2 separate regions of the Homo sapiens genome follow, and region 2 is linked to region 1. Evidence: fine-mapped expression QTL. A gene starts in region 1. The other region holds a variant in brackets. All regions are shown on one strand. Distances are between the middles of the regions.

Region 1 (4,388 bases):
ATCAAAAGAACCCTTTCCTTATTTACCACCGCTCTAGCCAGGTCGGTAGAAATGAGGTGAGGGGCATGAAGGGTATGTAAATGATGCACACAGCAGTTACTACCAAACATGGTGAGGCAGAAGGGGGCGGGGAGTCATGGTTCCCAAAAAGCAGAGACCCTGAGGATGGCTTCGAAGCCCCCCTCTCCACTGGAGCAATCCCACTCATGTGTCATACCCCAGCAAAACCTTCCCTGATTATCTACCCTGCCTTACCCCCACTCACTCCCATCAGAATAAATCATCCAATTATCTGGCCTTTGTGCAAACCTCCCCACAGCCCTGGGCCCACAGTGCCCAGCACTGGGGCTGCAGCCTCCCCAACAAGGCTGTCAGCCTGTCTAGTGAAGGGCTGCATGGAAGAAAGGTCTCCTTTGGTTTCATCTATGCTCGAGCCTCCATCCCAGAGCCAGGCTCACAGGGGTCAGGGGGAGCCCCCACAGCTGCCGGGCTCATACAGTCCAACTCTGCTGCCAACTTGGGCTCCTTCGGGGCTAGCAGGAGCTTCTGACACTCAGCCAGCCAGTGCTGGGAATGCTTGTCTGCTCCCCGGCTTCCACAGCGGCTGGAGTTGAGATTTCCCACATTTCAGTCCTCTAGGGCCGAGGATGAGGATGGGGGTACCCTATGGAAGGATGGCACGGCTTCCTGCCCATCCCCAGAGGCAGACAAAAGCACCCGGCATTCCACTTCCACTCCCACTCCCATGCCTCTGGCTGCAAGCAGCAACCCCAACTACTCCGGTGGCTCTGAGGGGCTTCCACCAGGTGCCACCCGCCCAACTGGGAGGCTGCAGCCCCAGGCGACCAGTTCTCAAGAAACAAGGTCTTCTGCCCCCAAGGACCTTTCCAGTGGTATAGGGCTGGGTGTGGAGAGGAAGAGGACAAGGGCCTCTGTGCGGTTAAACCCAGAAGAGTAAAGGCAGATGGGCAGAGAGGAGTGGGTGAGCAAATTGTGTTCATGTGTGTGTATGTGTGTGCCTGTGTGTGTGTGCGCGCGCGCGCACCAGTGTGTCTGCAGGTGGGCAGGCAAGAGTTGTGGCGAAGCGTGTGCGCCAGCTGGCAGAGTGAGCCCACCGGCGCAGTGCCTGATGTGCGTGTGTAGTGGGCATAAGTGTAAAGGCTTGCAGTGAGGAGGGGGACCTGAGGTGTGTGGAGATGTGCAGGGTAGGAGTTGTGAGTGTGAGAAAGCAGCGACTGTGGCTCTGAGTGTGTCCGCGGCTGTGCATATCGGTGTGGCCATGCAGGTGTGCGTATCCGCGCGAGTGTGTGGGGAGGAGGTTCGGGGGTGCGCCCCGGGTGCCCCCTTCTCTGCAGGGCCAGGGTGCCAGGGCGGGTCCACCGCGCCGGCAGGGGGCGCCCCGGGATGCCCGCCACGACTGGCGCCGGTTCGAGCCCCGGGGCGGCCAAGTTGGAGTGGCGCGGCCCGGGTTGGGGTTTGGTGGGGAAGTCCGCGGGGGCGGCGACCGAACTCACCGTGGCCGGAGACGTGGTTGTCCCAGGGCGCGTGGCCGGCGGGCCGCGTGGCGCCGCCGAGTTGCAGGAAAAGTGCCAGGTAGTGGAGGGCGCCCAGCGCTACGGCGAGCGGGGCCCCCATCGTGCGCTCTCGGGCCGGGGGCGCCGCCGCCTCACATCTGGGCCCCGGAGACCGCAGAACCGGCGCCAGCTGTCCCCTGCCCTGAGCGGCCTGGCTGCCCGGCTCCGGCAGCTGCCCCTCGCCCGCTGTCCCCGGACCCGGCCCAGCTCCCAGCCCTCGCCCGGCTCCGGCCCAGCCCCGGCTTCGGGGAGCGAGCGCACGCCCAGCCGGCCGCCTCCGACTGCGGGACTCTTCCCTTCCGCGGAAGGCCACGCCGCGCCGCCGCCGCACCCTCCTCCCTCCTCCCGCCTCCCTCCTCCCCTCCCTCCTCCCCTCCCTCCTCCCGCTCGGAGCAGGCGGCGGAGGGATCTGCCGCTTGATTTATCATCAAAGTTTTGCCCAGGCTGGGATTTTTAAAGCGGTACCCGCAACTTTCCCCCGCCCGAGTGCGGAGGCGGGGCCGGGATGGGGCGGAGAGAGCCACCCCAGGGACGCGGTTCCCGCAAAGCACGACCCAACGGGCTTCAGCCACAGAAATGCCGTCCAGCGGGGAGAGGGAGAAAAGCCAGGGCACCCGCCGCCAGGCCAGCGCACTCAGAGGCTCCTAACTTTACCGGCAGGGCGGGGCCGGGGTCAGGGGCCAGTGGGGCTGGGGGTGAGGGCGAGGTAGGGTGGGAGCCTGGGCTGAGACCCAGGGGACCTGGTGATAGCTCTGCCGCCGACCTCGGCTCGCTGTGTGATCGCGTCCGGGTGTCTACCCCTCTCTGAACCTCGAAGTCTTCATCTGAGAAATAGGGGTAATAGCTGTCTGCGGGGGTCCTGGTGAGGATTTGCGAAATCGTGCATGCAAAGCGCTTAGCATAATGCTGCCTACGTGGTAGGAGCTCAGTAGTTATTATTGTCGGTGTTCCCCTTTCTGGGACTCAGTTTTCGAGTCTTTGTAATGGGAGAGAGACAGGCCAGTTAGTTGTTGCGGCTCCTGGCTCTTGAAGATACTGGACCTTATGTGGTGGATGGGATCGCCCCCTTCTGGACTGTAGGCTCCTTCCCTAGACCAATGAGCCTTGATGGTGTGTGTGTGCATGAGTGTGTGTGTGCGTGTGCGTGTGCGCGCGCGTATGCGTGGGTGTATGTGTGTGTGAGTGTGGCAGGGGAGGGGGATAGGGCACCATTCCCATTCCCAAGAGCAAGAATCCAACAAAGTCCTCCAGTTCCTTCCCAAGCCGTGTTACTGGGGCTGATGGGACAGACAGGAGGGCGGAACTGTGGTCCCATTTAAAAGATAAGGAAGCGCCTGAAATCAGGTAATTAGCTTCTCTGAGGTCCCACGGCGAGTCGGGCGAGGCCCCTGACTCCTGGGCGGGGTCCCTCCTGCTCTCATCCCTTGCCCTTCCCCAGGCCTCCCTGCTCACACAGCCTGGTCCTCCCGGTTTCAGCACCACGGAGGAGGACAGCGCCAGCCCCCCCCCCGCCCCCCGCCCCCCGCCCCACCCGGGCCCATCCTTTGGGCACCGTGGACAGCGTCTCAACTGGCCCTTTGATGCTAGGGTTCACACCGTGGACAGACCCTCAGACTTTCTTCCCCGTCCCCGTCGAACAGGGTCAACCCCTCCGACAGCCCACTCCCCACTCCAGAACACAGGTGGATCCCGCGTCCAGCCGTGTGTACAGCGCCCAAGTTTGAGAACAAGGTTAGAGACCAAGGAACATAGCCCCTCGCCGTCTTCCCTCTGTCTTAGCGCCCCCCTTCCAGTATTATGGGGGGGGGGTAGCACACCGGATGGGGCCCGTGGTAGCCAGCAACAATCCAGCTCCTTCCAAACTAAGGACACCTCCTCCACGATGTCCCGCACTTACAAGCACTGTGTTCTAGCACCGTCCACAGCCCCCGCGCTCCCTTCAGTACCGAGGACAGGTCCCAAGCGTCGACCGCTTCCCCCACCCCCCGAACCTTCTGGACCACATGCCTTGGAGGAAGGGGCCGTGTTTGCCTGATTCTCTCACTTCTCACTTTCTTCCCACACAGAGGTGGTGTTTAGGTTATCCTGGGCTGGCCAGGCGTCTTGGACTCTATGCACGTGTTTTCTCATTCATTAACTACCCTGAACCCCGCTCCCAGCGAAATGAACTACTGCTTCCATCATAAAGATATGGAAACTGAGAATCCTCCAGATCACATAGCAGCCACCATGTTAGCCAGACTAAAACCCAGGACTCCTTCAACCCCAGCCTGAGGCCTCACCAGGAGACTGTGGTGACAGAACTGGGACTCAAACCCGGGCTTTCTCCTCTTAAACCACAGATTGGAGGGAGCAGACACAGGCAAGGGGACAGGGAGGGAGAGGAGATTAAAGAGGAGTAAACAAGAGATTGCTCAGGCCTGCAGAGGAAGGGGGTCTGGCGGGATGGCAGCACATTGCTGCTGTGCCCCTAGCCCACCGGCTGACCTTCAGAAATCTTTTCTCTTTGAAGCCTGGAACAAGGTCAAGGTTCCTTCAAGGACAGACATCCAGGGATTGTATGCCTTTGAAAATGCTCGTGATCGGCCAGGTGTGGTGGCTCACGCCTGTAATGCCAGCACTTTGAGAGGCCGAGGTGGGCATATCACGAGGTCAGGAGTTCGAGACCAGCCTGACCAACATGGTGAAATCCCATCTCTACTAAAAATACAAAAATTAGCCAGGAGTGGTGGTGGGCACCTGTAATCCCAGCTACTCAGGAGGCTGAGGCAGGAGAATCGCTTGAACCTGGGAGGCGGAGTTTTCAGTGAGCCA
Region 2 (4,388 bases), 260 kb after region 1:
CTTGAGCCCAGGAGTTTGAGACCAGCCTGGGCATATGGAGAAACCCCATCTCTACAAAAAATACAAAAAACTAGCCGGGCGTGGTGGTGCATGCCTGTAGTCCCAGCTGTTCAGGAGGCTGAGGTGAGAGGATCGCTTGAACCTGGAGGTGGAGGCAGCAGTGAACTGTGATCACGCCACTGCACTCCAGCCTGGGTGACATAAGGAGACCTGTCTTGAAAAAAAATCACTCCTGTCTTTGTTCCTCCAGTCTTGGGGTTCTTTCTCTCACAGCATCCCATTTACTTGTGCAGCACCCACTAGTCCAAAGAGGATGCCTTCGTCAAATGGTGAATATGGTCTGTAGCATCTTTTCTGCTATTGATAATCTCCAGCCACTGCACTTTCAACTCTTCCAAACCACTGTCACGATTTTGCTAGATTCATGCTCTCCACTGAGCTGCCTGATGCAACACTGACTAATACAACCACCTAAAACAGTAATAGCAATAATTTCACAAACATTCACTCAGCATCATGAATGTGTTAGCTCATTTGATCCTTGTAACAATCCCATGAGAGGTATTCTAATTGCCATCACCGTACTATGGATGAGTAAACTGAGTCCTTGGGAGGTGAAGTAACCTGTTCCAGGTCATACAGTTCATGAATGGGAAGCTGGGATGTGAGCCAAACACACTGGGTCCAGAGCACTATTCCTACCCCCAACCCCCCAGATAACAGTAATAGACAGTTCCTGGGGGTCAGGAAGATCAAACAGAGCCCTTTGTGCCTTTCAGTTCCTGGAGCACAGTAGAGTTCTAGAGGCCTTTCTCCTTGTCTGGTAGTGAGCTTTTCAGCCCTGGAGGTGTGCAAGAAGGGATTGCAGCACTTCTTCACATGGTATTTAAAGGGAACCTCCTTTCATTTGGTCCCCTTCACTAAACCAAAATGAAAAATATTAAATTTGAAAAAAAAATGGAAGCAAACCTCCTAGCAGTGGTCATCCAGGTGAACCAGATGGTGTTTAAGGCTCCCCAGGCTTCTCTTCCCAGTCCCCTGAAAGATGAAGCCACTTGTAATGTCATCAAGACAGGGTCTTTCGAGATCCTGATGAAATACCACCTCTGCTATGAAGCTGCCCCAGGGGCCCCAGCAGAAAGGAGAATTCCCTTTCTGTCACTCAGCATGGCTTTTTATCTCTGCTGTATAGAGCCAAGCTTGCATTATCAGGTTTGTGTTTGGGTCTTCTATGGCCTGCTGGACTGGAAGCTCAGGGAAGATAGAAACTGACGCCAATGCATAGACCTCCTTCTATAGCCCAATCCAGTACCTTGTATGCTATAGACACTCAATAAGTGAATAAGTGTTGGGTGAATAGATAGACAGATAGATGGAAGGATGAGAAAATTTTAAAAAGGAAGAAAGAAGGAAGGAGAGAGAGAGAAATGGGATAGGTGGATGGGGGAGGAGGGATGAGCAAATATGGATGGATGGATGGACAGATGGATGATGAAAGTATGGATCAATGGGTGGATGAAAAGATGGATAGATAGAAGAATGTATGTATGGATGTATGGATGGATGGAAGGATGGGAAATGCATATAGATGGCTAGACAATAGATTGATTGATAGATGTGAGAAGGTGATGGATAGAATGAGTGGATAGATGGATGGATGGGAAGATGGATAGATGAAAGGATGCATGGATGGATAAATGAAGGGATGCATGGATGGATGGATGGATGGATGGATGGATGGATGGATGGACTGGGTAGATAGTTAGATAAACGTATTTATAGAGACTGTGAGGTGTTGTGCAGTAGACACTCTAGAATTTCTATGTGGGGCCCACAATCTGCCTAGAAGGTGGGCTTGCCACCATATTTGCAGAACACTTTACATAAGATTGAGAAACTAGCTATTGCCCATGTGAATGAAATGAGAAAGAAGTGACAGAGATTATGGAAGCCTAAAACCCCTGCAGCTGCCACTGCAGGTGTGACCATAATCACCTAAAATAGTAAGATTCTGAAAATCTGTGGCCCTAAGAAGATTCAAAGGTTTTAAAGTTCTGTGTCTCTAAAACTTAGACTTGAAGATTCTGTGTCTTTAAGAACTCTATATCTACCAATATGAGCAACATGCTCTGTGCCGGGCATTGTTCTAAGCACTTTAGATACAAAGATTAGTTCCTATAATCCCCACGGCCACCCGTGGTCTAGACACTATTACACTATTACCACCCTCATAATGAGGCACAGAGATGCTGAGGTGTTTGCCTTAGATAACACAGCTAGTAAGTGGCAGAACTGGGATGTCAACCCAATCAGGTTAGGCGGGATCCAGAGTCCCCGCTTTTAACCACCACACAATCCTGCCTCAAGGAATGAAGGATTGTACGCATCTAAGTTTCGAAGATTCAGTGCTCAAGACTTGAAGAGTCTGCAATTCTGAGGCTCTAAGCGTCTCCACACCCAGGACTCTTCAGACGCTGAGGGAGAGAAAAGGAGAGAGAGTCTGGCTGGCTCCTACGAACACCAGCCCTGCTGATGTCAGGCA[C/A]CTGGCTGTCACTCTTCCTGTTAACCTTGGGGAGAAAAACACATTTGTGGCAGATAACAGGCATGAGGGTGTGCCGGCCCTCCACTCACTCCCGGGCCTGATGGATGGGCTACATGGGCCCCCCCGACCTGTGTGTGTACTGTTATCTGCTCAGCCAAGGGAAGCTGTTCATCATGCCGACAGCTTGGCGAGGCACACCTGCTGGGACTGCGTCAACCAGAGCCACCAGCATCCTGGGAGGAAGAAGGGGAGGTGATGGGGGGCAGTAGGGCAGGGGAGACACAGAGAAAAGGGCCAAGGGCTCAGTATCAGTACCAGAGGGTGGCACTAAATTCTGGGTACCATGGATGTGCTGTGTGACCACAGACTAGTCACTTAACCTCTCTGAGCTGTAAAATAAGATTAAGCTTTGCCAGAAACCTGGGGGTTGTACTTTCCTCCTTCTCATGCTCCACATCCAATCACCAGGTTCTGTCCATTCTACCTCCCAGTCTGTCGTGATCCTACCCATTTCTTACCAACAACTCTACCGAAACCACCTTGGTCCAGGCCACCATCATCTCTGCCTGGATGATGCTACAGCCTTCTCCCTGGGTTCCCTCCTTCCTGCCCACTATATTCCATTCTTCACATTTTACAGTTCAGAGAGGTTAAGTGACTAGCCTCTGGTCACACAGCACATTCATGGTACTGCCAGGAACGGAAGTCTGGCATCACGCCCAGAAGTCAGTGCCACGGCAGCCAGAGGATCTCTATTACAAAATGAGATCACATCACTCTCCTGCTTAAAACCCTCTAATAGCTCCCTGTCACACTTAGAAATAAGTCCAAACTCCTTGCCAGAGCCCTGCAAAACCTGGCCTCTCCCGCCCTGTCCATCCTTATGTCACACCTGCCAGCCCCCTTGCGTACCAAGTTTCAACCATGCCACCCATCCCTTTTCCACCTCTTAGCCTTTGCACATGCTGTTCCCTCGGATGCGAACACTCTTCCCCAGCCCTTTGCGTGGCTGGCCAGCTCCCTCTCATCTGCAGCTCTCAGCTCAATTGCCACCCCCTCAGAAAGGTCTTGCCAGCCTGAAGTACTACTCCAGTTCCCAATCTCACTCTGTCACGGCACCCAGTGTATTCCCTTTCTGGGACTGATTGCAACCTGAAATTGTGTTGTTTGTTTCTTTGTGTGTTTATTGTCTGTCTCTCCCACTAGAATGGAAGCTCCAAACGTTATGGGTTGTTGTCTTACTCACTACTGTGTCCCTGAGTGCTTCCTCAGTACAAAACCACACATTCTTTCCACCCCAGGGCCTTTGTGCCAGCTGTCCCTTTGCCTGGAACTCTCTTCTCTGCTTATTTAACGCCTACTCACCCTTCAGATCTATGGCAGGGCATATTTTGCAAAGATAGGCACAACAGCATCTTTTATCTTACGTGTTCTTTATAAAATATGACCTTGAGACTTGTCCTGGGAAGAAGTGGGGCCCGTGTTCCCTTCCCTTGATTTGGGGCAGGCTATGACTTGTTTGTGGCCAATAGGATGCCATGTAAGTGACACTGGGACACTTCTGGAAGGAGGTCAAGGACATTGGCTCTGGAGCCCTAAGCTACATTTAAGCAGCATGACTGTCCTGAGGATGCCATGCTATGAGGAAGCCCAAGCCGGCCTCTGCAGAAAGACCACATGGAGAATCCCTGAGATCACCTACAGAGAAGGAAAGAGATGTCCAGCATCTTCCAGCTGCTCCAGCTCCAGCCATCATCTAACTGAAACCTCATGAGAGACCCTGAGTCAGAGCTGCACAGCAGAGCCCTTCTGAATCCCTGATCCACAGAAACCACAAGCATCAACA

Direction of the effects. Alleles are on the strand shown, and positions count from the first base shown. SD is a standard deviation of normalised expression in the study named.
With allele C in place of A in region 2, the expression in spleen of the gene that starts at base 1,859 in region 1 is lower (large effect, 0.79 SD a copy in GTEx).

What was found. PIP is the estimated chance that this variant, and not a neighbour inherited with it, causes the effect.
Region 2: its variant is fine-mapped to the expression of VSTM2L in spleen (GTEx, PIP above 0.99).

The regions. Positions count from the first base shown.
Region 1 is chr20:37,900,598-37,904,985 of GRCh38, reverse strand. VSTM2L (V-set and transmembrane domain containing 2 like) reads right to left here and starts at 1,859. Exons shown (of 4, transcript NM_080607.3): 1 at 1,515-1,859. The coding sequence starts at 1,635. The region is part of intron 2 of LOC124904896 (a long non-coding RNA gene); the gene reads left to right. RefSeq lists an enhancer at 1,596-2,559.
Region 2 is chr20:37,639,649-37,644,036 of GRCh38, reverse strand. No RefSeq gene overlaps it. Among named protein-coding and RNA genes, the nearest start is that of LINC00489, 19 kb to the right of the region's middle. The variant C/A (reference allele first, on the strand shown) is at 2,543.